Linked DNA regions of Homo sapiens: region 2 is linked to region 1. The links come from fine-mapping of genetic effects on gene expression. Tissue or cell type: whole blood. Region 1 holds a variant in brackets; the other region holds the start of a gene. All regions are shown on one strand. Distances are from middle to middle.

What was found.
Region 2: ATIC starts here. The variant in region 1 is fine-mapped to the expression of ATIC in whole blood (TOPMed, PIP above 0.99).

The regions. Positions count from the first base shown.
Region 1 is chr2:215,270,526-215,285,949 of GRCh38, reverse strand. LINC02862 (long intergenic non-protein coding RNA 2862) reads right to left here and starts at 10,960. Exons shown (of 3, transcript NR_174956.1): 1 at 10,810-10,960; 2 at 8,267-8,342; 3 at 8,003-8,181. RefSeq lists an enhancer at 14,037-14,585. The variant G/A (reference allele first, on the strand shown) is at 8,211.
Region 2 is chr2:215,302,966-215,318,389 of GRCh38, reverse strand. It overlaps ATIC (5-aminoimidazole-4-carboxamide ribonucleotide formyltransferase/IMP cyclohydrolase), which reads right to left and starts at 6,331. Exons shown (of 16, transcript NM_004044.7): 1 at 6,229-6,331; 2 at 5,766-5,892; 3 at 157-233. The coding sequence starts at 6,247. LOC124907975 (a long non-coding RNA gene) reads left to right here and starts at 6,418. Exons shown (of 2, transcript XR_007088075.1): 1 at 6,418-7,711; 2 at 13,851-14,731. RefSeq lists silencers at 5,987-6,356, 6,367-6,446 and an enhancer at 5,977-6,627.

The sequences.
Region 1 (15,424 bases):
CATGAAGCGATTTCTTTTTTCTTTTTTCTTTTTTTTTCATGTCCAAGCTTCGTCTCCTCTCTTCCCAAGGGGAGTCCTTCCAGTTAAACTTATTTCTATTTGGCAAGAAAAGGGCAGAAAGTTCGTAAGCATTGTTATTGGTTGAATTGTGTTCCCCCAAAAGATATATTGAGGTCCTAATCCCCAGTACCCGTGAATGTGACTTCGTTTAAAAATAAGGTGTTTGCAGATGTACTCAAATTAAGACAAGGTCATACTGAATTACAGAGGGCCAGAACCCAATATGACTGGTGTCCTTATAAGAAGGGGAGAAGAGACACGGAGATACACACACACACACACACACACACACACACACACACACACAAGAAAGCCACATTAAGGCAGAGGCACAGAATGGAATTATGTTGCCATCAAGCCAAGGCAAACCTGAGACTACAATAAGTGTAGGAGGCAAGGAAAGATCCTTCCCAAGAAGCATCAAAGGCTGGATACCACGGGCAGCACCTTGATTTTGTACTTCTGCCCTGCAGAAGTATTGTTTTAAGCCAGCCAGTTTGTGATATTTTGTCACAGCAACCCTGGGAAACTAATACAAGCATTGTCATCATTCTAGGTACCACTAATGGCCTGCTACGTGACATTCACTTGATTGATTTGTGCATTAGATGAGAGTGTAGGTTTTGGAGTCAGAATTCCTGGGTTAAATCCTGGCTCATAAAAGCTAGGTCTGTGGGCTGGGCGTGGTGACTCACGACTGTAATCTCAGCACGTTAGGAGGCCAAGGCGGGTGAATCACCTGAGGTCAGGAGTTCGAGACCAGCCTGGCCAACATGGCGAAACCCCATCTCTACTAAAAATACAAAAATTAGCTGGGCGTGGTGGTGTACGCCTGTAGTCCCAGCAACTTAACAGGGTGAGGCAGGAGAGTCACTTGACTGGTAAGGGGGAGGTTGCAGTGAGTCGAGATCGCACTACTGCACTCTAGCCTGGGTAACACAGCAAGACTCTGTCTCAAAACAAAAACAAAAACAAAATCTAACTAACTAACAACAACAACAAAAAACTAGGTGTGTGACCTAGGGCAAGTTATATAACTGTTACCTATTATTTCTATTATTTTGTCAAATCATTAGAATAGTCCTGAAAGGTAGATATTAATATCCCCACTCTTTTTTTTTTTTTTTTTTTTTTGGAGACGAGGTCTTGCTCTGTCACTGAGGTTGGAGTGCAGTGGTGCAACCATAGCTCATTGTAACCTCAAACTCCTGGGCTCAAGTGATCGTCCCACCTTGGCCTCCCAAAGTGCTCGGATTATAGGTGTGAGCCAGCATTCCTGATCTAATATCCCCACTTAAGAGAAGAGTCTTCTGAGACATAGAGAAGTTCACCATTTGCCCATGGAAATACAGTTAGTAAGTGGAACAGTTGGATTTTTTTTTTAAACCCTCCAACTTCTGGACTCAAGAAATCCTCCTGCCTCAGCCTCCTGAGTAGCTAAGACTACAGTTGTGTGCCACCACACCCAGCTAACAGGTGTTTTTAAAATACGTTTTAATTATTTTGAAAGAGTTTCAAAGTTTCAGAAAAAATACAAGAAAAACACAATAAACTCTCACATACCCTTCACTCAAACTCCTCAATTGTTTTGGAACGATCAAATTGGCATGATCTTGGCTCACTGCAACCTCTGCCTCCTGGATTCAAGCGATTCTCGTTCCTCAGCCTCCCAGTTACCTGGACTACAGGCACGCACCACCACACCTGACTAATTTTTGTATTTTTAGTAGAGACAGCATTTCCTTACATTGGCCAGGCTGGTCTCGAACTCCTGACCTCAGGTGATCCACCTACCTCGGCTTCCCAAATTGCTGGGATTACAGGCATTACAGGTGTGAGCCACTGCACCTGACCTGTTTGGGTTTTTTTTGTGTGTGTGTGACAGCATCTCACTGTGTTGCCTAGGCTGGTCTCAAACTCCTGGACTCAAGTGATCCTCCTGCCTTAGCCTCCCAAGTAGCTGAGATTACAGGTGCATGCCACCGCACCTGGCAATTTAAAAGAAAAAAAAACATATTTGCTTCATCATTGGCACTCTCTCTCTCTCTCTCTATACACACACACACACACACACACACACACACACATATATATTCATTCCACAGATGTATCATGTATATTATATATTCATATATAACACATATTTTATATTTTTACCCCTAAGCCATTTGAGAATTACAAACGTGCCCTATTACCTTTTGACAATTCAGTATGTAGCTTCTAACAACAAGAGCACTCTCCCACCTAATGAGAGTTCAACCATGAAAATGAGAAAATTGGGGTTTATTCCTTACCATGTTGAGTGTTTTTTTTTTTTTTTTTTTGGTAAACTTTTTGTCTGAGAATAACATACATACAGACAAGGGCACAAATCATAAGTATACATCTGAAGGAATATCCAGCAAGTGAACACACTTGCATAACCAGCAGACAAATGAGGAAATAGATTATTATCAACATCCAAAAGCTCCCCACCCTATGTCATATCTTAGTTGCTTCCTCCTCCTCTTCAAAGGTGACCATTATCCTGATTTCCATCACCATAAATTAGTGTTGCCTGCTTTTGAACTTTATATGAATGGAATTACATACTATGTACCCCCCCTCCTTTTTTTTTAGATGGCGTTTCACTCTTGTTGTCCAGGCTGCAGTGCAATGACACCATCTCAGCTTGTCTCCTGGGTTCAAGCCATTCTCCTGCCTCAGCCTCCTGAGTAGCTGGGATTACAAGCATGCGCCACCACACCCGGCTAATTTTGTATTTTTAGTAGAGATGGGGTTTCTCCATGTTGGTCAGGCTGGTCTCGAACTTCCAACCTCAGGTGATCTGCCCGCCTCAGCCTCCCAAAGTGCTGGGATTACAGGCATGAGCCACCGCACCCGGCCCCCACTTTTTGTTTTAAAAAACAGCTTTTTTCCACTCAATATTACATATGTGAAATCTATTATTATTGCTGGAAATATCTGTAATTTGTTTATTTCTCATTGCTATACAGTATTTCTTGTGTGAACACATCCCAATTTATCCTTTCTACTGCTATTGGACATACAGATCATTCTCTGTTTTTGGCTATCAATATTTTTGTACTTTTTTGGTGCACATGTGTATACATTTCTGTTGGGTTTACTACTAGAAGTGGAATGGTTATGTGACAAGGTGTATGCAGTTTAGCTTTAGTACCTCCTGTACTGCCAAATAATTCCCCAGAGTGATTGTACACAATCTTCAGCAGTATATGAGAGTTTCATTTGCCTCATATCCTTACCAGCACTAAATGTTATCATTATTTTTTATTCTAGCCCTCTGGTGGGTGAACAGTTTTTCTCGTTGTTGTTTTCTTTTTTTTTTCTTTTCTTTTTTTTTTTTTGAGACAAGAGTCTCGCTCAGCTGCCCAGGCTGGAGTGCAGTGGCACAATCTTGGCTCACTGCAACCACCATCTCCGGGGTTCAAGTGATTCCCCCATCTCAGCCTCCCGAGTAGCTGGGGTTATAGGCACCAACCATCATGCCCAGCTAATTTTTGTATTTTAGTAGAGACAGGGTTTCACCACATTGGCTGGTCTTGAACTCCTGACCTCAGGTGATCCACCTGCCTCGGCCTCCCAAAGTGCTGGGATTACAGGCGTGAGCCACCATGCCCAGTCTCATTGTTGTTTTAATTTGAATACCCTATGGCTAATGAGGTTAAGTATCCTTTTATATACTTACATACTACTTGAATATACTCTTTTGGGATGTGCTTGTGAAGTGCTAGATTTTAAATATCCTTACCTGACCCCAAAGTTGATTTTTTAAATTTATTTTTCTAAATTCTTCATATACGTCATGAAATAAGTAAAGTTTTACTTGGGAGAGATGAACTATGCTGTAACTGTACCAGCATCAGTTGTTTTAGTTATCTATTTATCACTGCACACAGAGCAAATTACTCCAAAACTTACTGGCTTCAAACAATAATAAACATTTATGATAGCATAAATTTCCTGAAGGTGAAGAATCCGGGGGCACATTAGGTCATTCTGGCTCAGGATCTCTCATGAGGTTAACAGTCAAGATGCCAGCTGGGGCATTTGAGAGGGGCTGGAGGACTTGCTTCAAGATGGCCGACTCACATGGCTGGTAAGTTGATGCTGGCTGTTGGCAGGAGGCCTCTGGTCCTTACCACATGGCCCTCTCCACAGAGCTGCTTGAGTGTCCTCACAACACGGTGGTTGGCATCCACTAGAGTGAGTGACCCAAGAGAAAGCAAGGTAGCAGCTGCAATGCATTTTATGACCTAGCCTTAGAGGCCATACTACATCATTTTCCCAGTATCCCATTGGCTACACAGGTTAGCCTTACTGAATATGGGAAGGAAACTACACAAGGGCCATCTTGGGGATTAGCTGCTACACTTGTCATTATAAACTTCATTGCCCAAGCTCTTTTAAAAATGTAAATAGAAGGAAAATTACACTTTTTAAAAATTATGTTTTTTGAGACAGTCTCAATCAGTCTGTTGGCCAGGCTAGAGTGCAGTGGCACGATCCTGGCTCACTGAAACCTCTACCTCCTGGGTTCAAGCGATTCACCTGCCTCAGCCTCCCAAGTAGCTGGGATTATAGGCGCATACCACCACACCTGGCTAATTTTTGTATTTTTAGTAGAGACGAGGTTTCACCATGTTGGCCAGGCTGGTCTCAAACTCCTAACCTCAAGTGATCTGCCCGCCTCAGCCTTCCAAAATGCTGAGAATATAGGTGTGAGCCACTGCACCAAGCCTGAAAATTCTTTACCATCAAGAATGAACTTGAAGAAAGATTATTCATTTAATACATGTGTATTCTAATGGAATACATTCTCTGTTTTTGGTTATCAATATTTTTGTGCATTTTTTTGGGTGCACATATGTATACATTTGTGTTAGGTTTATTACTAGGAATAATAATTTCCTAGTTTACTCCTAGGAATATTTATTAGTTTATTCCTAGTTTATTCATATAAATTCTTAGTAGTTTATTACTAGGAATAATGGAAAATGTAATTAATTGATTTTAGGATCAGCAACTTGTATTGCTTACCAGTGTTTCAGATGTTTTTGAAAGTAAATGGATTTGGATAATTATCATAGTTTGTTTTACCCCTGTCTCTATATAAGGAGTGCCTTCTTAAATATACTTATAAGAATATTGATTAGAACTTCAGAAGTCATGTATTTAAGATTGTAAAATTGGTTGCATATGTTGTTTTAGTCTGCTTGGGCTGCCATAACAAAATACCACAGACTAGGTTCCTAAAACAACATAAATTTATTTTCTCACAGTTCTGAAAGCTGGAAGTCTGAGAACAGGATGCCAGCATGACTGAGTTTTGGTGAGGACTCTCTTCCTGGCTTGCAGCCAGCCAGCTTCTCACTGTGCCCCACACTGGCCTTTCCTTGGTGCACATATATGAAGAGAGAAAATAAGAACTCTTTCCTCTGTCTTTCTCTTCTCATAAAGCTTTAAGTTCTATGGGATTAGGAGCCTATATGACCTCCTTTAGCCTTAATTACCTTCTAAAAACCCTGTCTCTAAATATAGTCATGTTGGGGGTTAGGGCTTTGACATAGAGATTTTGAGGGGACATGATTCAGTCCATAGCACGCATAAGCATGTCTCAGGTTCTCCTCTCCTCTCTTTTCCTCTCTCTCATCTTTGGTGATATAAGGAACAAACAGATTTGTGAATATGAAAGTATTTTTCAGTACAGTCATCACCTCTACAGAAGACTGGCCATCAGCAGCTACTTTTCTAGGTTAGTTGTGGAGTAACAGATGAACAAAGGGGAAAAGGTGAAAATGGATGGTGAACCTGGGCAGGTCAGAGCAATGCATACTAAAGGTTTAATTTCTTGGAAGACTTGTGCAAAGTGTTTCCTTCTTTCCTTCCCTTTCTTCCTTCCTTCCTTTTCCTTTCCTTTCTTTTTTCCTTCCTTCCCTCCTTCCTTCCCTCCTTCCTTCCCTTCCTTCCTTCTTTCCTTCCCTCCCTCCCTCCTTCCTCCCTCCCTCCCTTCCCTTTCCTTCCTTCCCTCCCCTTCCCTTTCCACCTCCCTTCCCTTCCCCTCCCCTCCCTCCCTCCTTCCCTCCGTCCCTCCTTCCCTCCTTCCTTCCTTCCCTCCCTCCCTTCTTCCCTCCTTCCTTCCTTCCCTCCCTTCCTCCCGTTTTCCTTCCCTCCTTCCCCTCCTTCCTTTTTTCTATCTTTCACTAAGTGAACCAGTCATCTTTCAATTTTTTTTTTTTTTCTTGAGACAGAGTCTCGCTCTGTCGCCCAGGCTGGAGTGCCGTGGCGGGATCTCGGCTCACTGCAAGCTCCGCCTCCTGGGTTCACGCCATTCTCCTGCTTCAGCCTCCCAAGTAGCTGGGACTACAGGCGCCCGCCAACACGCCTGGCTAATTTTTTTGTATTTTTAGTAGAGACGGCGTTTCACCGGGTTAGCCAGGATGGTCTCGATCTCCTGACCTCGTGATTCGCACATTTCGGCCTCCCAAAGTGCTGGGATTACAGGCGTTAGCCTCCCACGCTGGCCTCATCTTTCAATTTTTAACACATCTGAGGAATATGAATAATTCCAAGTGAAGTAGACATTCATAAAATGCTTTTGTTCTTCCATCATTTAAATCCAAACTTTTCCATGCTGTCTTATTATGTTGGTGCAAAAGTAATTGCGGTTTGTGCCATAACTTTCAAGGTCAAAAACCGCAATTACTTTTGCAGCAACCTAATAGTTTGCTTACAGGAATCTAACAGTCGTTATTCTCTTGGTCAAATTGAAAGCTGAAAAATAATCTTTAAAATATAGATCTCTATGTTTATTTCAAGTCTTCTTGGCATTTTCTAAATTAAATAATTTCATAAAACTAGACCAAAGCTGTATGAGCTAAGATATTTATCACAGTATCAAAATAATTAACATTTACTGAGAAAAGTCAGACACTGTGATGCACTGTTTTATATGCATAATCTTTATTTACTATCACAACCACCCTATGAAGTAGCTTGTATAATAATCCCAATTTTTACAGATGAGAAAATTGCACTTTAGAGAGAGTACGTAACTTGACTAAAGTCACATAGCTAATAAGTGGCAGAGCCAGCCAGGACTTTTTTTCTTTTGTTTGTTTGTTTGAGACAGGGTCTTGCTCTGTGGCCCAGACTGGAGTGCAGTGGCACAATCTCTGCTCACTGCAACCTCTGCCTCCTAGGTTCAAGCGATTCTCCTGCCTCAGCCTCCAGAGTAACTGGGATTACAGACACATGCCACCATGCCCAGCTAATTTTTTTTTTTTTTTTTTTTTTTTTAGTAGAGACAGGATTTCACCATGTTGGTCAGGCTGGTTTCAAACCCCGACCTCAAGTGACCCACCTGCCTCGGCCTCCCAAAGTACTGGGATTACAGGCATGAGCCACCACCGCGCCTGGCCCAGGACTTTATGTATGTGTGTGTGTATATATATATATATATATATATATTTTTTTTTTTTTTTTTTTTTTTTAAGGCAAAGACTCGTTCTGTCTCCCAGGCTGGAGTGCAGTGGTGCAATCTTGCCTCACTGCAACCTCCACCTCCTGGGTTCAAGCAATTATCATACCTCAGCCTCCCAAGTAGCTAGGACTACAGGCATGCACTACCACACCCAGAATTTTTATATTTTTAGCAGAGACAGGGTTTCACCCTGTTGACCAGGCTTGTCGGAAACTCCTGACCTCAAGTGATCCACCCACCTCGGCCTCCCAAAGTGTTGAGATTATGGGCGTGAGTCACTGCACCCACCACCAGCCAGGACTTTAGAGTCAACAAGTCAAGTCTTTCTGACTCTAAAAGCTCTTCTTAACCTCTAGAAAAAGTAAATATTCAGCAATAGGAAACTCCTCACATCTATTATAACTTCAATATAACAGAATATTATGCAGCCATTGCAAATTATGTTCTTGGTTAATTTTTATTGACTAGAAAATGCTTATATTTTAATAGCAAACAAAAGAATAAGCAAGGTGCTGTGGCTCATGCCTGTAATCCCAGCACTTTGGGAGGCCAAGGTGACAGATAACTTGAGTCCAGATGTTCAAGACCAGCCTGGGCAACATGGTGAAGCTCCGTCTCTACAAAAAATAAAAAAAATTAGCTGGGC[G/A]TAGTGGTACATGCCTGAAGTCCCAGCTATTCCAGAGGGTGAGGTGGGAGGATCACCTGAGTCCAGGAGATGGAGGCTGCAGTGAGCCATGATCATGCCAGTGAACTCCAGCCTGGGTGACAGAGCAAGACCCTGTCTCAAAAGCAAACAAACAAAAAAATAAGATTCACACTAATGCATACATTATTATCTCAGCTATGTAGAAATATAAACATTTATGAGCTGGGTGCGGTGGCTTATGCCTGTAATCCCAGCACTTTGGGAGGCCAAGGCAGGTGGATCACGAGGTCAGGAGATCGAGACCATCCTGGCTAACATGGTGAAAACCCATCTCTACTAAAAATACAAAAAATTAGCCAGGCGTGGTGGCAGGCACCTGTAGTCCCAGCTACTCGGGAGGCTGAGGCAGGAGAATGGTGTGAACCCAGGAGGCGGAGCTTGCAGTGAGCTGAGATTGCACCACTGCACTCCAGCCTGGGCAACACAGTGAGACTCCGTCTCAAAAAAAAATAAAAAAAGAAAAGAAATATAACCATATATGAATACCCATAGAAAAAATGGGAAATAGTATATACAAATATTAGGATTGCTTTATTTAAATGTGGTATGATTATGAATGATTTTGCTTTCTTATTACATATTTCTGTAATGAACATGTATTACTTTTATAATCAGGGAAAAGATAACAGAAATTTTTAATACTTATAATATGAGGGAGGAAATATAAAGACTTGGTTTTTATGATTAGAGAAATAAGTCCATTTAATAACTGCTGTATCCATGAAGTGCAAAACCTTCAATATGCGATCTGTTTCTGACATGATGGCTATCAGATACTCAGATACATACAAAGTAATATTCTCTTGCTTGCTGAATTCTCTTATTCTTTCTGCCTTATGTTGGAGATAAAGTAGAAAGTGTGTGTTTCTCATTGGGAAGTTGGCACTTGAATGAGACTGCCGCTTTTCTCAGCTTAAAAAAGATAAAAGGAGTTATCAAGTAATGTTTTCTTTCACCTAAGGATGTTGGTCCCACTCCAACAATTGGAATTGATTGAACTCCTGTGCTTGCAAATTTAAAAGCCTTTTACACAGGGGATCTACTCACTCAGAATTTTACAAATCAGTGGATGAACTCAAAACAAAAACCCATTACAGGGCACCTTAATGTTTATCTGTTTGGCAAGATAAACACTTGTAAACAAGCACTTTCAACTGTGAGCTTCGATAATAACACTATGAGATCTGTACTGGATGTTAAAAATTTACATACAACTGTAAAGATAGGACAAACCTAAAGAAGAAAATTGCTTTTTTAAAATTAAGTTTTCTGATCCATATTCTTAATTACATTGTATTTCATTTATCTAGACCACAGCCACTTCTCTTGACTTTTTCCTTGATAGCATTTTTATTATTGCCTATGGAACGTAACATTGCATGACACAAGTATGCCATTGGTATTTGATTAAATAGTACTGCTTCCTGAAAGCCTGGAAACCTTCAATCAGGCAAAAGAAATGATATTAAATAGCCTTATGTCTGATGAACATAATAACTGCTAATTAATTTGTTATTTAGCCCTGAAATTGTCAAACCTAAATGTGCTTTTTTTTTTTTTTTGAGACAGGGTCTTGCTCTGTCACCCATGCTGGAGTGCAGTAGCTCAATCATAGCTTACTGCGGCTTCAAACTTCCAGTATTAAGCAATCCTCCCACTTCAACCTTCTGAGTAGCTGGGACTACGAGTGTATACCACCATGCCCAGTTAAATATGTATATATATGTATATGTGTGTGCGTGTGTGTGTGTGTGTGTGTGTGTGTGTGTATACATATTTTGACAGGGGACAGAGTCTCTGTCTCCCAAGCTGGAATGCATTGGTGCGATCTTGGCTCACTGGAACTGCCATCTCCTGGGTTGGAGCAATTCTCCCGCCTCAGCCTCCTGAGTAGCTGGGATTACAGGTGTGTGTCACCATGCTCGGTTAATTTTTTGTATTTTTGATGGATGATGGGATTTCACCATGTTGGCCAGGCTGGTCTCGAACTCCTGACCTCAAATGATCCACCCGCCTCAGCCTCCCTAAGTACTGGGATTACAGACGTGAGCCACCACTCCCGGCCCAAATCTAAATCTTGACATTAAATTTAGACTTCAGAGTTTCATTGAGATTAATCAAACTTGAAATAAACTTTAAGAAAGATCATATCCAGGTAAAATCAGTTCTTTTGTCTAAAAAAATTAGTTATTACATTTCAACCAACAGACCAAAGGGCCTTAACCTCTAGATCAGTGCTTGACAAATTACTGATGGATCAGTCCCCAACAAAACACACACAATTTGTTACAGACCAATACTTTGATAAAACTGAAGAAGCAAAACAATGGAAAATGAAAAAGTCATGCAAAATAGAAACACATTTATAAATGATTAGTTTCAACAGATACACAACTATTGTCAAACTTTTCCAAATGTTTTAAATCCTTACTCTCATTTTCTGTGCTTTACTTGCCATGAACCAATAACAAACAATTCTGAGAGCCATGCAGATCACGGACCACATTTTGAGTAGCGCTGCTGTCGGCTCCCTGCTCACCTTAAAGTCCCATATGTTGCTGTTTGTCTTTGGCTGAGAATCTGATTAGGTAATGGAATGAGGCTGACTTCCTTATCTTCACCTGCAACTCCCCTTGAGTAGGTTTGCAGATTGTAATTATACCTGTGTGGTATCAAGATCTTTCACCTGTAGGGTCCTGATGCAACTGAGGTATTTATAAACACCGAGGCAAGTTCCCAGGGTTCAGCTGCCCGTGGTTTCAGGTGATGACTCCGCTGGGCAAATGTCAAGGACCTCCGTGAACAGCATAACCAGCTGAACCAGAGGGAAATTTCCCCAAATGTTTTACTCATATATAGGTGAAATAGCTAGTAGTTCCCGCACTGTGTATGATCATCAGAATCATAACAATGCAGTTTTAAAAATATGTTAGAACCAACTATAACTGCTGACTCTATTATTGTTCAAACTATTTCTAAGCGTTTTCTCCCCTCCTCATTGGTTGATTCCAACACCACAGGGAATGGAGGCTGCCCACAGCCAGAGTCTTTAGGGAAAGGATAGAGTCAGACTGCTCGGTCTTTCCTATCAGCAGAAGGCCACACTGGCTGCTGTGCTGTTCTGGGCATAGTCAGCATGATGATTGCTTTGAGAGATTTAGAATTGGCATTTCTTTAGCTGTTGCGCCTTCTTTCACACCAGCTGAACAACAGTTCTTAAAATGTGGCCCAGAGACTCCTACAACCATTTCAGGAGGTCTGCAAGGTAAAAGATCTTTTCATAGTAGTACTAATGTTATTTGCTTTTTTCACTCCCATTCTTTCATGAATGGGGTTTACAGTGGCTCCATAACGTGTAATGATATCATTGTTCCGATGCTTAATGGAATGTGTGCTTCTGTGCTCTTCGTGTATTCTTGTAATACCAATCTTAATTTCAAATATGATAAATATTGACAGATAGAGCCTGCGTAAACTACAGCCGTTCGGAGTCTGTAATATTTTTTAAGAGTATAAAGGGGTTTCGAGACCAAAAAGTTTGAAAATCACTGCTGTAGAAGAATAAATTTAGTTAATTGTGTCTACAATGAAATGTAGAGGCAATTTGGCCTAGGAGATTTTTCTTTTTATAGCGTCCAAAATGCTATAGTAGTGGGGCCATGCCGTGGCAAGGAAACATTCTCCTCTGGAGTGCCCAGAGGAAACACAGCCTTGCTCAAGACGCTGAAGGACTTCTGACCTTCAGAAATGTAATAAATCTGTGTTGTTTTAAGCCTTGAAGCTTTTGGTAATTTGTTACAGCCACAATAGGAGCTGAATATAGGCCAGGTGCGGTGGCTCACACCTGTAATCCCAGCACTTTGGGAGACCGAGGCAGGCAGATCACCTGAGGTCACGAGTTCGAGACCAGCCCGGCCAACATGGTAAAACCCTGTTTCTACTAAGTATAAAATTAAAAAAAAGCCAGGAGTGGTGGCGGACACCTGTAATCCCAGCTACTTGGGGGGCTGAGGCAGGAGAATCCCTTGAACCAGGCAGGCAGAGGTTGCAATGAGCCAAGACCATGCCATTGCACTCCAGCCTGGGCAACAGAGTGAGACTCCACCTCAAAAAAAAAAAAAAAATAGGATACAAATACAGATCTGTTTCAGAGAAAACAAAGACTTGTTGAGCACCTGCTAGGCACCAGGCCATGAGCAAAATTACATAGTCAGGGCTTACAAACACTAGGATTCAAATTCAGGTTCACCTGCATTCAGAGACCAAATCCTTTCCATGAATCTTTTTTTTTCTTTTTTTTTTTTGTCCCCATTCCAAAAGAAAAAATGTTCTATGGTAAAAGTGGTGCTATAAACTTTTGATTTTCTCTAAGGACAATTGTAGAATTTCAGTGCATGATCCATATTGTCAGAGATCATGAATATTGCTTAGGTCCTGATGGCACCTTGATCGTATGCCCTTACTTGACTACAATCTAGTCGATATGGATAGCACTGTGGGTAACTTTACAGGCACTCAGTGTGTTCCCCTGAGCTAAAGAAAGGAGGTATTTCCCCCACGTTACTCCCTGTATTCCTAACTATGAATCAACTCTCAGGTTAACTGCAGCATACTCATTTACTTCTGAAAATGAAACATGAGAATTGTTAAATGTCAAGCTCTGCCTCATGAGAAGGAAATTCTAAAGTGAATTCTTATTCAATATGGGTAAGAGAAGATTAATTGCTTTTTAAAAATTTGGTGATGAAACATGCTGGTTTTCTAGTCTAAAGGAGAGTATTTACTTATATCAATATTCAACACCAGTTGATTTGTAGGAATATTTTTAAGGCAAGATTGGTTTGAAAGCAATTAGGATGGATAGAATTTGCTTTGGAAGGTAGCTTAAATGTAAGCAAGGCATCAAAATAGCTTAAATATCCAAATATTCAGAGATGTAATTCAGAGGTTTCAGGAACATCATGTATTTGGAAAAGCCAAGTTGATAGTTCCACGCCATGAGATGGTGATTCATACAAGATGTCTCCATCTTCATTTTGCCTATTATCTTTCCCCCAGTTCTACACTGTTCCAAGGGTATATGCCAGTCATTTCTGAGTTGATATTAGGCCGGGACTCAAGATCACCAAATCCCTAAAAAACCACTTACAGTCACAACCATGTCTACTAGATTCCCCATAAGAGACACAATCCATGCCTTGATGGTGAGGCCTGGCCTGTGCACACTGTTTATTACTGTTTGGGTTTGGTGCCAAAATCCTTTTTGGAATTCCTAGACCTGGCGAATTGTGCTGGACTACATAGGGCTGAAAACATTCCTATGTGTCTTTTGTCAGAGGCCTAAATGAAGTTCCTCCAGATCTCACTCTAGTGGCAAAAAAAAAAAAAAAAAAAAAAGAGAGAGAGAGAAATCCAAAGAAAAATAGAATATAGGTGGGATGGTTCCCTACGCCCAAAACCTAGACACTCTACCCCAGGCCAGGCCTTCCTGTGGCAATAGGAAGTGGGGTGTGGGTGGTTGGTGAGAAAAGGCCGTTGGAGGAGTTCATTACTAGGTGGAAAGCAGGCCTGTCTTAATTGCTAGAGCGGCAGCTGGCGGAGACATCATTTTAATAAGACAAGTCCAAAATGACAGAGTCTCTAAAATCCCTAATCCAACTGGAGAGCATAGTTAGAGAATAAGCTTCTGCCTCCTTTTCTTACCATGACATTAAAAGTTCCACGCTCTGCCTCAACACTGTGGCCCAATAAAGATCCTCAGAAATTAATGTTGCTTCTCCTTAGGTGTCAAGGACAGGGAGGACTGGAGCTTTGATCTGACCCCATAGGCCAGCAGTGTATATTACCCCACAGTTAGCTAATGTTATGGTCATAATTTACCTCCTCAGGCCTGCCTGGGATCTGTCAGTTTTATCAATGGGGAGGTGAAACAGAAGCTGATCCTCTTCCCTACCAGCCTTCCAGATTGCCTGGGCTGCTTCATTCCTCCAGCATTCCATTTAAATCAAGGCAGGCACAAGACCTGCTGCTTTGCATTGTGATGGGATGCACCTGACAGGTAGCATCTGAGCACTCTGGGATGCTATGCAGCAGTGCAGCTACAAGCATGAATCAATTAAGTGGCGATTAGGTTCAGACTCTCAAGCAATGACATAGTCGGCTTCACACTGACTTTGCTATACATAAAATCCCCAGAAAGAATAATACCTTATCCAAACTTTCATTATATCTGGTAGTAGAATGAATATGGATCGATAATAAATTTTGTTCCAATATAACATTAGTTTCAGAAGAATTTTCTCCTTCTTTCCCTATCAAGAAATCAAATTATGGCCATAAAAATAAAGGCTTATCTACTTGAGGACTCTGTGAAGAGAACAATGGTTTGCTTTTTAATATTAACATTTTAGCTTGTATTTGAAAATAAGCTTGGGTGATTTTATACAAGAGAGAATTAAATATGTTTCTCAGAACATGAACTTACATTTGGATGTTTTGGAAAAATAACCTTTTTTACATGACAATGGAATTAGATCTTATAATAATTTCAGGTTTTTGAATGAAACCTTTTAATTTTGGGGTATATACCAACTTTATAGATAAGAATGGAAAATAAAATAATGAAAATTCATTATACATCTGCCACCAAGCTTTATTAAAATAATATGCCGTATATGCTTCAATAGTTTCTGAATAAATGATGCAGTATAAGCATAACTGAGGCCACCTTCATTTTTCCCCATCTCATTACCCTTTCTTGCTCTGAAGGGTAACAACTCTCATGAATTCAATGTTCACTATTCCATAGTTTGCATATTTTTACTATATATACATAGAAACTATACAGTATTATTTTGCATACAGTCATTCTGTACATGTCCTTCTCCAAATTGATTTTTAAACTCACCATTTCAGACAGGATTTTTAACCTATGGAACCTGGGATGTGTAGAGGTATATAAAACCCCAAGCCTTTAATTTAGGATGCAAGGCCTTCAGGTGTTACATGAACCCCTGAAATTATAGGTACATGCACTTTTTTTTGAGATGGAGTCTCACTTTGTTGCCCAGGCTGGAGTGCAGTGGTGCGATCTCAGCTCACTGCAACCTCTGCCTCCTGGGTTCAAGCGATTCTCCTGCCTCAGCCTCCTGAGT
Region 2 (15,424 bases), 32 kb before region 1:
TCTAACGTATTATGAAATCTGGCAGCAACTTCATAACATTAACTTTATATGTAAATTTCTCTTGAGCCTTTTTCTTCCTTTATTTTAGGACGCTATCAACTAAAATATTCCTGGAAACCACTGACTGTTTTTACATTAAAGATACCAACCACTTACCAGCATGGACTGCAGGATGCAAAGTTTTCACACGTCCCCCCAACATTTCAGGAAATCCCGTCAACTCAGAGACATCTCTGAAAAACAGATAAACAGAATGGTACTACTGGTGTGGCTGAATTGTAATTTTCACTATTCAAAGCATCTACTGTTTTCATTTCAAGAGATTTTGAGCCTGAATTCAACGTGAAAATTCTGATTTTTTAAAGTATTTCACTATATTTTATTTCTTAAGTAAAATTCTATTTACTTCCGAAAAAAAGTTTATTTAATTTATTTCCTAACTGTTGTGTATGTTCAGGGATAATTGGTAACTACTACAGCACTGGTTTTATAATTTTCAGAGCATTTAGAAACTGAATCATAAGCCATACTCATTAAATATTACTAAGACATACAACTGAGAATTTGGCAGTATGTAACAAAAAGCATTAAAAATATCCTTGGCCGGGCACGGTGGCTCATGGCTGTAAACCCAGCACTTTGGAAGGCTGAGGCAGGTGGATCACCTGAGGAGGGGAGTTTGAGACCAGCCTGGCCAACATGATGAAACCCCAGCTCTACTAAAAAAATACAAAAAATTAGCCGAGCGTGATGGCGGGCACCTGTAATCCCAGCTACTGGGGAGGCTGAGGCAGGAGAATCACTTGAACCCAAGAGTTGGAGGTCGCAGTGAGCCGAGATCATGCCACTGCACTCCAGCCTGGGCGACAGAGCAAGACTCCATCTCAAAAAACAACAACAACAACACATGAAGATGGCATATCAAGTGAGTGAAGACATAAAAGACTGTTTAATAAAGTGGTGTTGCTATTGGAATAACGGGTTAAACCCAAACAAAAATATATTCCTTATGAATCAAAGGTTTAGCATTTAAAAAATCATGCATGTAGCAAAATTAAATATGTGAGGAATGCTTTCCAAGTTTTAAACAAAAGATTGAGAGTTCTGATTACAGAAATGTTAAATAAAAAGTTTTACATGGGAAAAAAAAGTAAACTAGAAAAAATAATCACACAATGTGACAAAGGGTCAAGTGAAGGACAGTAAATATTAATCCATATCACAAAGCAGACCCCTAGAAAGTCGTAACCACGAACACTCTGGCAGACTTTATAAGTTGTAATGGTGTGTAAAAATGCCCACAATATATAAGAAAAAATAAAGCAGGGGCCAGGTGGGGTGGCTCACACCTGTAATCCCAGCACTTTGGGAGGCCAAGGCGAATGGATCACCTGAGGTAAGGGAGTTCCAGACCAGCCTGACCAACATGGTGAAACCCCGCCTCTACTAAAAATACAAAATTAGCCAGGCATGGTGGGGCATGCCTATAATCCCAGCTACTTGGGAGGCTGAGGCAGGAGAATCGCTTGAACCCGGGAGGCGGAGGTTGCAGTGAGCCAAGATTGTGCCACTGCATTTCAACCTGGGCAACAACAGCAAAACTCCGTCTCAAAAAATAAATAAATACATAAAAATAAATAAAGCAGGAAGCAAAACTGCATCTATCTTCTGTGTAAGCTATGAAATAAAGTACATGCTTATAAAAATGCTTGAAGAAAAATATACTAGCATGTTAAGAATTACAATCCATTTTTACTACCTTCTTTATAGTTGTCCATATTTTCGAATTTTCTACAATCAACATATATAGTTTTTGAGATGGGATCTCACTATGTTGCCCAGCCTGGAGTACAGTGATTATTCACAGGCAAGATTACAGTCCATGGCAGCCTAGAACTCCTGGGCTTATTAAGTAATCCTCCAAGTAGCTGAGACTATAATAAACACTTTAAAGCAGCAAGTTCTGCCAGTAAGATACGGAATTTCCTGGGTAGATTCTCCTGTTAAGGGGAGCCATTTGCAAATGACTGGTGTTTGACCAATGACACACACAGTTCCAACATCCACAAACTGGTGACATAAGTGTTTTCAAATTCAAAATTTCTTTTCCTGGGGTTCAGGAAATAAAATCCATTTCCTCCAAATGAAGACAGTCACTTAAAACTTAGAGAAGGCGGATTTATTTCTAGAATTAAACATTTGGGGTAATTAAAAAGCTTGCTACTCCTTTGAACTGAAGAATTTATACATAATGGCTGTAGTCTCGGGAAATAATTCTATGTATGCTCACTGCTGTATACTCACTAATTAAAATCCATCAGTTTACCTCATGACAAGGTAATGGTTAACTTCCTGGGATAAAATTATTGCAGATAACAACACCCAAAAATATGCTCAGAAGCAGCCTCAGAACCAAGATCTTTTTTTTTTTTTTTGAGACAGTGTTTCTCTCTGTCATCCAGGCTGGAGTGTAGTGGTGGAATCTCGGCTCACTGCAACCTCCACCTCCTGGGTTCAAGCAATTCTCCTGCCTCAGCCTCCTGAGTAGCTGGGATTACAGGTGCACGCCACCACACCCGGCTGATTCTTTTTTGTATTTTTAGCAGAGATGGAGTTGCACCATGTTGGCCAGGCTGGGCTCAAACTCCTGACCTCAGATGATCCAGCAGCCTCAGCCTCCCAAAGTGCTGGGATTACAGGGGTGAGCCACTGCGCCCAGCCAGAACCAAGACCTTGTCCAGGCATGGTGGATCACACTTGTAATCCCAGCACTTTGGGAGGCCAAGGCAGGCAAAATTGCTTAAGCCCTAGAGTTCAAGACCAGACAGACAACATGGTGAAACCATCTCTATGAAAAATACAAAAATTAGTTGGGCATGCTGGTGTGCAGCTGTAGTCCCAGATACTCAGGAGGCTGAGGTGGAAGGATTGCCTCAGCCTGGGAGATCGAGGCTGCAATTAGCCATGATTGTGCCACTGCACTCCAGCCTGGGTGACAGAGTAAAACCCTCTAAAAAAATATATATATATAGCTTTCTCCTGCCCTCTTGCCTCTCACCCTTCATTCTTCCCTGAAGTCACAGAAATGAGAATTTCTCTTCCCCAGGGCAGTTTACAGAAACTAAAACTCTTTTTCCCCAAAGCCAGTCATAAGATTTAAACTTATGATTCTAACTTTCCACTGGCTTTCTGTCTAGGAGCTGGACGTAAAGAAATCCTCTCATCTCCTTGCCCATTAGTAGGTCAGGAGATCCTTAGGGGGTGGAGAAAGAATTTTAGAGAAGCCAAGAAGAATCTGGACAGACAGGCTTTCCTGGCTTTCTCCACCTCAGTCTACTAGCATACACCATATCCTTGCTGTCCAATCATACTTCCACCTTTCTGTCCATTCTTTGTTGAACCTAAACATAAAAATGGATGGTTTTTCCTCTGTCTTTGGGTCTTCATTCTGAAGGCTCTCATGTCATGTAAAACTTTGTTAAATAAATTTGTTATGCTTTTCTCTTATTATAACCTGTCTTCTCTTATAAAAATATTGGCCGTGACGTTTACGATGGAGAGCAAAGGATCACACCTTTCCACCCCTACAAAATCTTGGCCTCGGGTGCGGTGGCTCACACCTGTAATCCCAGCAGGCCAAGGCGGGCGATCACTTGAGGTCAGGAGTTCGAGATCAGCCTGGCCAACATGGTGAAACTCTGTCTCTACCAAAAATACAAAAAAATTAGCCAGGCGTGGTGGCGGGCGCCTGTAATCCTAGCTACTTGGGAGGCTGAGGCAGGAGAATCGTTTGAACCTGGGAGGCAGAGGTTGCAGTGAGCTGAGACAGTGCCATTGCACTCCAGCCTGAGCAACAAGAGTGAAACTCTATCTCAGAGAAAAAAAAAAAAAATCTTGGCCTCTTAACTAGCTGTGTAATCTCGAGCGAGTTACTTAACTACGTTGTGCTTAATTTCCTCACCTATAAAATGAGGATAACACTACCTAAACTAAAAAGTTGTTATAAGGACTATAAGAGTTTATATATGTAAAATACCACTGCAACTGAATAAAATACCACTGCAACTGAATGTGGCCTTTGTTGAAGAAAAAACAATTGCTCCAAGTTGTTTACATTTCATTCAGTGAACTTTACTGTGCTGGGGTCTAAATAAATCACTCATGGTGAACTTCTTATCCTTTCATAGAAGAGAAACACATTTACATTTCCAGTTTTTAAAGAAGATATGACCATAATGAAGATAAGTGAGGAGTGGGTATAGGTACAGAAACAAGACTAATCAGTTGATAAGTACCTAAAGTGGGTGACAGATATAGGACCCAAGGGATCATTATACTTTTCTACTTTTGATTGTGTCTGAAATGTTTCCATAATACAAAGTTTGGTGGGGAAAAAAAAGAGACTACAGATGAGGATTTTGCTTTACGAAGGTTCCATTACCATAGGAGGACCCAACTTGGCCCAATGGAAAGCACGCAGGTCTGGACTTTGAATTCTCATTCGGTTGCTGATGAGCAAAGAGCCAACTTGCCTGCCACGATTCTCACAGGTTTCCCATGAAAACCACAGAGACAAGACGCAAAAAGACATCCGAAAATATACAGTTATGTATTTGTTAATAAAGTAAGGCATTCTTACCATCTGAACTTGTTAAACTTAGGGAAGCTGTGTACTGCTCACATAGCTGGGAACTGCACAAAGAAAAGGTAATAACCTACCTCTACATGGATCTAGAAACCAAGAAGCAAATTTTCCACATGGCAACAAAAAGCAGACAGATATCCTTCATCTCTTTCATTCTAAAATATGTTTCAGGGGTGGTCATCTCGTTCCTCCCAACTCTCACTGCCGTTTATTAAATAGCTATCCTATAGTTTTTTTCATTTTTCTACCTTTCAGTAGACTTCCTCCCTCTCCTCCCAGAATGCCACTCCTTGACATCAGCAATGGCATCCTGGTTAATCATTTCTAAGTCCCTTCTTTCCATGGCCTAGTCAGCTAATGAAGGGCTTGTGAACGTGGGAATGAATGATTTGCACCTTCATATGGTTACCAGAGATTCTAAGGGAAGGCAGGTAAATTGGAATCTTCATGATGTCGAGTTTTATTAAATCACCAGTCAAAGTAACTGAAGTTTTCCTTGCATAACAAGTGGCCCACCTAAGTTAATCTGTTTAAGGAAGGGGCTAAGACTAGTGTCCTAAAATCAGGAACAGCACGGGTTCCAATCCTACTTTTCCCTTACTCAACTGTTTAAACTTGTGCAGAAGATGCTAAATCTGTCCAGTGTGTTGTCCAGGGTCTTTCTCTGTCACCCAGGATGGAGTGCAGTAGTGCCATCTCGGCTCACCACAACCTCCGCCTCCTAGGTTCAAGCGATTCTCCTGCCTCAGCCTTCCCAGTAGCTGGGATTACAGGCGTGTGCCACCATACCGGCTAATTTTTGTATTTTTAGTAGAGACGGGTTTCACCATGTTGGCCAGGCTGGTCTCGAACTCTTGACCGTAAGTGATCAGCCCACCTCGGCCTCCCAAAGTGCTGGGATTACATGCGTGAGCCACCTAGCCCAGCCGTCCAGGGTCTTAAAAGTTGCTAAATCTCTCTGAGCCTCACTTTTTTTCCCCATAAAGTGGGGAAGTATTACACCAACCTCACAGCGCTACTGGGAGGAGTAAATAAGGCGTTTTGCTGCTGGTGCCTGGAATACAATACTTCCTGGTTAATGTGATCACACTCCTTTCTGATGGAACTAGCTATGCCTTACCTGACTGCCAGACCAGCATCCCTGAGAGCTTTTGCAGTCCCTCCGGAAGCGACCAGATTCAAACCAAGAGCGGTCAGGTTTCTTGCAAATTCCACAAGGCCGGTTTTGTCAGAGACACTAAATAAGGCTGAAAGAGAAGACATTTTTTCTCATGATTCGCAGCACATTGCACTGTGTTCTGCAAGGCCTTGGGAGGGTCTGGGGGAGGAGATTCTCGAATCGCAAGGCCAGCACCTGGACCCTGCGTTCGCAGGCCTGGTCCGGGCCTCCCCAGGTCTTACACCCGCGAGCTGCTCTAAGGCGGGCCCCACGCAGGCTGCGGCCCGGCCGGGGAGCGGGGACGCTGGCTTTCAATCCCGCAGCGCCGCCCCTGCAGTGCCGGGTCCCGCCGGCCGCCGCCAAGGCGGGAGCGTGGGGGGCCGCAGGCGAGGACGCAGACCGCGCCGCTCCGCTAGGGCCTCACCGAGCTGGCCGGGAGCCATGGCTGCAGGCACTGGGTTCAGGGCGAGCGGGAGGCAGCAGCGGCGGCACCACGTGCGCAGGTAGGAGGGCTGCCGGGATGTGGCGGCTCAGGAAGCGAGGGGGCGGAGCTGTTTCCGGGCTTATCACGTGGCCCGCCGGCCCTGCCCGGCGCCCTGCTCTGCTCAGTTTCAGATGCAAGATCCGCGCCCCGGGGCTGAAGGGAACGGCGGGATGGGGTGGGGCTCTGCCTGGCGCGCCTGGGCGGAGTGCTTGGGCTGGAAGGGATCCTGCCTGCGATCCCGAAGTCCAGGCGTGGGAGCCAGCGATCTGCCCACGACCCCAAAGTGAGGCCACTCCACGGCCTCTGGGGCAAATGCCTGTTATTCTAGGCAGCCGGTCCCCAGAAGCTGGAAAGTACGTAAAAGTGCCAGAAGCTCCCATGCTGAAAACTAAACAAAAGGAATAGTTCATATAGCGGCAAAGCTGGAAAGTATCTGGACAGTTATCTACCATCCTCCCTTTTTGTTTGTTGTTTTTTTGTTTTTCTGGGTTTTTTTGTTTTTTTTGTTTTTTTTTTTTTTTTTTGAGATGGAGTTTCGCTTTTGTTGCCCAGGCTGGAGTGCAATGGCGCGATCTCGGCTATGTCACGTGCAACCTGCAACCTCCACATCCCGGGTTCAAGAGTTTATCCTGCCTCAGCCTCCCGAGTAGCTGGAATTATAGGCAGGCGCCACGATGCCCGGCTAATTTTTGTATTTTTAGTAGACATGGGGTTTCGCCATGTTGGCCAAGCTGGTCTCAAACTCCTGACCTCAGGTGATCCGCCTGCCTCGGCTTCCCAAAGTGCTGGGATTACAGGGGTGAGCCACCATGCCCAACTTGTTTTTTGTTTGTTTGCTTGCTTGCTTGTTTGCTTGTTTGTTTTGAGACAGGGTCTCGCTCTGTCTCCCAGACTGGAGAGCAGTGGCACCATCTCAGCTCACTGCAACCTCTGCCTCCCAGGTTCAAGAAATTCTCCTGCCTCTGCCTCCACACCCGTCTAATTTTTTGTTGTTGTTGTACTTTTTTTTTTTTTTTTTTGTATATTTAGTAGAGATGGGGTTTCACGGTGTTGGCCAGGCCGGTCTTCAACTCCTGACCTCAAATGATCTGTCCACCTCAGCCTCCCAAAGTGCTGGGATTACAGGTGTGAGCCACCGTGCCCGGCCCCATCCTCCTTTTTAATAGGCTTAAAAAATAAAACCAAGGACCAATGATTTAAGTGAGGGACTCCAGAGGCCACAGATGACAGTCAAAACGAAGTGAAATTGACATTCGTTGTTGATTTTCACGTCATAAAATTATAATTTAAATATTAATTTATAATACTATTTTATACAATTTAGTCAGTATTGTAAAAGTGCCTAAAAACTACTTAAAGATGGTGTCTTCTTGCAAACCTGTAAATATTCCTGGATGAGAGGAATGATGACAGTCAAAAGAAGGTAAGAGAAGACCTTTCTTAATTCATTAAAAACAGGGAAAGCAAAATTGAACACATTTGTTTCTTTCTAAAAATGACACCTTTGCCACAAAATAAATACATATTGTGGTCTATGAGTCTTTTTTGTGTTATTAGAATTATATTCCAAAGTAATAGCATTGTTTATCTTTTAGTCTGAGCTCACAGCTGTAAAAATGAGTCTATTTTCTCATTATCTGCATGCTATTTATTTTTGTTTTTCCTCTTCCTTTCTCTAATTCTTCCCATCTCTTTACTCCCCAAAATAAATACCTATTGACTAGAATCAATTTTTTTTTTTTTTTTTGAGACAGAGTCTCGCTCTGTCACCCACACTCTCGCTCTGTCACCCACACTGGAGTGCAGTAGCGCGATCTCGGCTCACTGCAACCTCTGCCTCCCAGGTTCAAGCGATTCTCCTGCCTCAGCCTCCCGAGTATCTGGCACTACAGGCGCGTGCCACCATGCCTGGCTAATTTTTGTATTTTTAGTAGAGATGGGGTTTCGCCATGTTGGCCACGCTGGTCTCGAACTCCTGACCTCAGGTGATCCACCTGCCTTGGCCTCCCAAAGGGCTGGGATTGCAGGCGTGAGCCACCGCGTCCAGCCTGGAATCAATTTTTTGACCTCTAAATATGTTAGCCCTTTGCTCTGAACACTTCTCACATTCCTACGAGGAATATATTAAGATTATCGCATGTCTTCAGTGTGTTTGCCAAATTTGAATTTAAAAAGGATATTTCCTTGGCCAGTCACCATCAGGTTTTTACAGGAAATCGAAAGCAAGGAAAGGAGAAAACAATGCTGACATTTATTGATAAGGGGAAATAAACAGTTGCTTCGGCATTATGCATTTGTCTGTCATGTGAATTACAAATATTTATTCGATTCAATACATTTTTATTGAGCCTTTTCTGCTTGGATGGCAGAAACTCAGTGTCAGAAGACAGATAAATATCACCTAAGCACTGTCCTCAAGGAGCTCATGATGGAATGAAAATGTAGACACATGAAGTATAACTAAAAAATATTAATAGAGGCCGGGTGCGGTGGCTCACACTTGTAATCCCAGCACTTTGGGAGGTGGAGGCGGGCGGATCACGAGGTCAGGAGATCATGACCATCCTGGCTAACACAGTGAAACCCTGTCTGTACTAAAAATACAAAAAATTAGCCGGGCGTGGTGGTGGGCGCCTGTGGTCCCAGCTACTCGGGAGGCTGAGGCAGGAGAATGGTGTGAACCCGGGAGGCGGAGCTTGCGGTGACCGAGATTGCGCCACTGCACTCCAACCTGGGCGACAGAGCGAGACTCTGTGTCTCAAAAAATTAAATAAATAGGCTGGGCGCGGTGGCTCACGCCTGTAATCCCAGCACTTTGGGAGGCCAAGGCGGGCAGATCACGAGGTCAAGAGATCGAGACCATCCTGGTTAACACAATGAAACCCCATCTCTACTAAAAATACAAAAAATTAGCCAGGTGAGGTGGCGGGCGCCTGTAGTCCCAGCTATTTGGGAGGCTGAGGCAGGAGAATGGCATGAACCCCGGGGGGCGGAGCCTGCAGTAAGCCGAGATCGGGCCACTGCACTCCAGTCTGGGCGACAGCGAGACTCCATCTCAAAAAAAAAAAAAAAAGAAGAAAAAATTAAATAAATAAATAATAATAATAGAGAAAACACGGCATTAAACTGATTTTGTAGAGCCTCTTTCATTACAGACTCTTCCATTTACAGATGTTTACTCTGGGGCCTGGTGTAGTGTCTCATGCCTGTAATCCCAGTGCTTTGGGAGGCAGAGGTAGGAGAATCACTTGAGGCCAGGAGTTTGAGACCCACCTGGGCAACATAGTGCATGCCTGCAGTCCTAACTACTTGAGAGGCTGAGGTGGGAGTTCGAGGTTACAGTGAGCTAAGGTTGCACGGCTGCATTTCGGCCTGGGCTACAGAGCAAGACCCTGTCTCTTAAATAAAATAAAATAAAAAAATAACAGGCTAGGAGTGGTGGCTCACGTCTGTAATCCCAGCACTTGGGCAAGCTGAAGCAGGTGGATCACTTGAGGTTAGGAGTTTGAGACCAGCCTGGCCAACAGGTGAAACCCCGTCTCTACTAAAAATACAAAAAGTAAGTTGGGTACAGTGGCTCACGTCTGTAATCCTAACACTTTGGGAGGTCAAGGCGGGTGGATTGCCTGAGCTCAGGAGTTCAAGACCAGCCTAGACAACATAGTGAAACACCGTCTCTACTAAAAAAATACAAAAAATTAGCCAGGCATGGTGGCGGTGCCTGTAATCCCAGCTACTCGAAAGGCTGAGGTGGGAGAATCGCTTGAACCAGGAGGTAGAGGTTGCAGTGAGCCAAGATAGTGCCACTGCACTCAAGCCTGCACTATAGAGCGAGACTCTGTCTCAAAAAATAAAAATAAAGATATTTACTCTGATTAATTCTCCCATAGTTTTAGCATCCCGACTTGATAGGACTTAATATGTTAATGACAAAAAGAGTAAATGAATTTTTTACTAGCTTTGTGATCCTGGCCAAGTCACTCCATCTTTTGGGGACCTTTGTTGCTTTACCTGTAATATGGACATAATATTTTTTCTGCAGTCCTCATCATATTTTAAGAAGCGAATTAAGTACAGGTAGTCTACTGAAAGTACAAACTGCAAAGAGACTAAGAAGAGTAAAATAGAGGTGTAATCTTCTTGGTTCCCTTGGTCTGGCTAATCAGGTATCTTTCTGGGCACCAAGGTATGTCTTCAAAGATCTAGTCACCAGCAAGCTAGTGTCTTAGAAAAGGGAGATGTTCTCATAAAGATGAGAATGCATCTTTTACCAATGGTTTATCGCAGGATTATTGTTTCAGAAAGACAGAAAGGGCGTGTATACACTATAATGATTACATTTTCATTTCTTCTTACTTCACATACCTCCAAAGAGAAGCTTGAAGACCCTAAAATCATAGTAATATACCTTAAAATATTTAATGTACATGAATTGTTTCAGTTCTTTGAAGGTGTTATAATCTGATTTTGCCCCTATGTTGTTTGTTTCTTGTGTAAATTCATCACTTTTTTTTTTTTTTTTTTTGAGACGGAGTCTCGCTCTCACTCTGTCACCCAGGCTGGAGTGCAGTGAAGCAATCTTGGCTCACTGCAAGCTCCGCCTCCTGGGTTCACGCCATTCTCCTGCCTCAGCCTCCCAAGTAGCTGGGACTACAGGCACCCGCCACCACATCCGGCTAATTTTTTTTGTATTTTTAGTAGAGACAGGGTTTCACCATGTTAGCCAGGATGGTCTTGATCTCCTGACCTTGTGATTCGCACATTTCGGCCTCCCAAAGTGCTGGGATTACAGGTGTGAGTCACCGCGCCTGGCCAAGCTCATCACTTTCTTTGAAAAACCTCCATCTCCCTTCCAAGTCTTGGATCTCCTATTGGACTCTAACGATTAATAAAGCTGCATCATCTTGGGCTGACTTGCTCCAAGGGTTTGTCCACTCAAGTGGATGTAGTTTATCATATAAAGGGATTCCCAGGAGCTTGGTATAAAATTCCTCTCTACTGTAGTTCAGAACATTAAGCTAATTTATGACCTAGTATGAAATTCAAACATTTTTCTTGAAAGTCCTGGAGATGTTTGGAGATATAAAGCTGACAATAATACAAAGAATGAATTGGAATAGTAGGAAGTAGAGAAACTGGTTAGGAAGGTTTTGCATCCACTCACACATAAGAAGGTGGAAAAGAGGTTATCTATGTGAGACGATTCAAAATAGGTAAAATTAGCAGCATGCAGGGATCAGTGACATATAGGAAATATTAGACACAAAAAACTAGGGATGATTCCATCATTTCTAGCTTCGTCATATGAGTAGCTGGTGAGGCAACACCCAAAATATAAAAATATATGTAAGAGAAAGAACAGTTGTGGCATGTGTTTATTTTAATTTAAGGTCAGTGTGAGTGGTTGGGTAAATAAGTTTGAGTTTCTAAATATTGATTTTAAAGTCTAGGTAATTGGTGCACACAGTTAAAATCATACAGCAAATTGTTGGAAATACAAATGAAATTCAGGAATAAAAGTGAGGTTAAAGATAAATAAACGTGGAAAATTAATGAAATTCAAGTAGTAGTTGAAGCCTGGAAGAAGATAAGCTTGCTTAATTAGGTCTAGTAGATAACCCGAGCGACAAAAAAAGCTAAAGAAAGAAAATTCATTCAGGAAGGCATTTAATGTTTTTTGGTTTTTTGAGACTGAGTCTTGCTCTGTCACCTAGGCTGGAGTGCAGTGACGCGATCTGGGCTCACTGCAACCTCTGCCTCCTGGGTTCAAGCAATTCTCCTGCCGAGTAGCTGGGATTACAGGTGCATGCCACCACGCCCGGCTAATTTTTGTATTTTTAGTAGAGACAGGGTTTCACCATGTTGGCCAGGCTGGTCTTGAATTCCTGACCTCAAGCGATCTACCCATCTCGGCCTCCAAAAGTACTGGTATTACAGGCATGAGCCACTGTGGACCACAGGTGAAGAGACACTTTATCCTTTTGGATAAAATAAAGCAGAGAAGAGGGACAGGGCAGAGGTAGCTGCACCTTTAGGAAGGCCTGGCAGAGAATTTCTTACTGACAAGGTACATTTGAGTGAGGACTGGAGGGCTGGGTGGGGGATAACAAGCCACAGGGTATTTGAAGGAGAAAGTTCCAGGCAGTGGGAACAAGTGCAAAGGCCGTGCATAGGGAGTGTGGCTGTAGTGTCTAAGGAATGTCAGGAAGGGTGGTATGGTAGCAACAGAGGGAACTTCACTAGGAGAAGGAAGACACAATGTCAGCAATCGGGTTGGATAAGGCCGTGTGGGCACATCGTAAAGACTTCGGCTTTTATTCTGAATGAGAAAGGAAGCCCTTGGAGAGTTTTGGGAAGGAGTGACATCTAATTTACCTCTTTCACACACTCACTCTGGTTGTATGAGAGCAAAGGTGGAACAGGGGAATCCCTACGAAAGCTCTCACAATGATCCAGGACCTTGACACTAGGTGAAAGATGAGGGTGGCACGGCCCAGAGTGGCAGCAGTGGACATTGGAGGAGGTAATTAAATCCCAGATATATTTTGAAGGAAGAGCCAATAAGATTTGTTGACAAATTGGATGCCAAGTTTGAGAGGAAGAGAAGGAGCATTGATGATCGCTTGTACAGCTGGAAGAATAAAGTTGACATCAGCTGAAATTGGGAAGGATACAAATGTAGTAGCCCTGGGGGGAAGAACAGGGTTAAGTGTAGGACACTGGATACCTATGATACTGTGTGTCAAATACTGCCAGCAGGTTAAGTCTGATGAGGACTGAGAGTAACCATTAGATGTTGGATTATCCTGACAAGGACACATTTGGGGAAGTGGTAGAGATGAGGGTCTGGCTGGAGTAGGTTCAAGAGAGAATGAGGGGGCTGGGCATGGTGGCTCACACCTGTAATCCCAGCACTTTGAGAGGCTGAGGTGGGCGGATCATTGATGTCAGGAGCTTGAGACCAGCCTAGCCAACATGGTGAAACCCGTCCCTACTAAAAATACAAAAATTACCTGGGTGTGGTGGGGCGCACCTGTAATCCCAGTTACTTGGGAGACTGAGGCACGAGAATCACTTGCATCTGGAAGACTGAGGTTGCAGTGATCCATTGCACTCCAGCCTGGGCAACAAAGCAAGACTCTATCTCAAAAAAAAAAAAATGAGACACAAAGAGGGAAGGAATTGGAGATGTGGAATAAAGATGACACTTTTAAGGAGTTTTGCTCTTAAACAGGGTTTGTCAACCTCAAAACTATAGACATTTTGGAGCGGATAATGCTTTATTGTGTGTGTGTGGCGGGGGGAATGGGGGGTGTGTCGTGAGCATTTCAGGATGTTTAGTAGTATCCAAGCCTTCTACCACTAGATACCAGTAGCACCCCTACTCCAGTTGTGACAACCAGAAGTGTCTCCAGACATTGCCAAATGTCTCCTGTGGGAAAAATTGCCCCCAGATGAGAACCACTACTCTAAAAGGAGAGTAGAGGAATAGGGTGGTAGCTGGTGGTACAAGTGGGTCCAGGGAGCTTATTGACATTTTGTTTTTGTTTTTTTTGATATAGGGTCTCACTCTGTTGCCCAGGCTGGAGTGCAGTGGTACCATCACAGTTCACTGCAGCCTCGACCTCCTGGACTCAAGATCCTCCTTCCTCAGCCTAGCAAGTAGTTGGAACTACAGATGCACGCCATCACATCTGGCTAATTTTTTGTAAAGACTAGGTGTCACTATGTTACTCTGGGCTTAAGTGAGCCTCCTGCTTTCAGCCTCCCAAAATGTTTGGATAACAGGTGTGAGCCACCACACTCAGCCTTGTTTTTTCTTAATCTGAAAGAATAATCACATTTGTTTGTCCATAACACTGATCGATTCAGTAGTGAAGAGGGAAATCTGATAATGCAAGACAGAAGCAAGTCTTATTATAGAGGGATCTACTTAGGGACTGTGGGTGGGGAGGGAAAAGCTTCTTCAAGGAAATAATTTTTTCTTTTTTTAGACAAAGTTTCACTCTTTTGCCCAGGCTGGATGCAGTGGTGCGACCTCAGCTCACTGCAACCTTCACCTACTGGGTTCAAGCGATTCTCCCACCTCAGCCTCCCAAAAAGCGGGGAGTACAGACGTGTACCATCACACCCAGCTAATTTTTGTATTTTTAATAGAGACAGAGTTTATCCATGTTGGCCAGGCTGGTCTCGAACTCCTGGACTCAAGTGATCCAGCCACCTCAGCCTCCCAAAGTGCTGGGATTATAGGTGTGAGCCACAGCACCTGGCCTCTGCCTCTTATTTTAGATTACTTATGTCAACCACTTAACTCCAGTCTCTATCATATCTCACACTTGGCTGAATAGCCACCATCAGCATTAATAGTTGTTACAGCTTTCTCAGCACCTGGACTCCTACTACCAATGTTTCTACGAATAAAATGTCAGAATGAATCCAAGAACAAATAGATCTTATGTTACCTCTGTCTCTAAAGGCTTTCTTGATTGCTGTATCCTCCATGTGGTGGATTGATTGTTTCCCCTTTTTTGATGCAGGAGCTTATTTAATTGTAACACCTGTAGCATTGAATTTCACTCATTTGTCTGTTTCCTTTCTTCCTTTTTTTTTTTGAGACGGAGTCTCGCTCTGTCACCCAGGCTGGAGTGCAATAGCATGATCTCGGCTCACTGCAAGCTCTGCCTCCTGGGTTCATGCCATTCTCCTGCCTCAGCCTCCCGAGTAGCTGGGACTACAGGCACCCACCACCACGCCAGGCTAATTTTTTGTATTTTCAGTAGAGACAGGGTTTCACCATGTTAGCCAGGATGGTCTCGATCTCCTGACCTCGTGATCCACCCAACTCGGCCTCCCAAAGTGCTGGGATTACAGGTGTGAGCCACTGCACCCGGCCCCTTTTTTTCTTTTTTTAATGTTAAACAGATAATGTGCCAATGTCCTGATGTTGTAACAAGGTTGTTTTTTGTTTGTTTGTTGTTGTTTTTGAGACAGAGACTTGCTCTGTTGCCCAGACTGGAGTGCAGTGACACAATCTCTGCTCACTGCAACCTCAGTCTCCTGGGTTCAAGTGATTCTTGTGCCTCAGCCTCCCAAGTAGCTGGGATTGTGGGTGCAGGCCACCATGGCTGGCTGATTT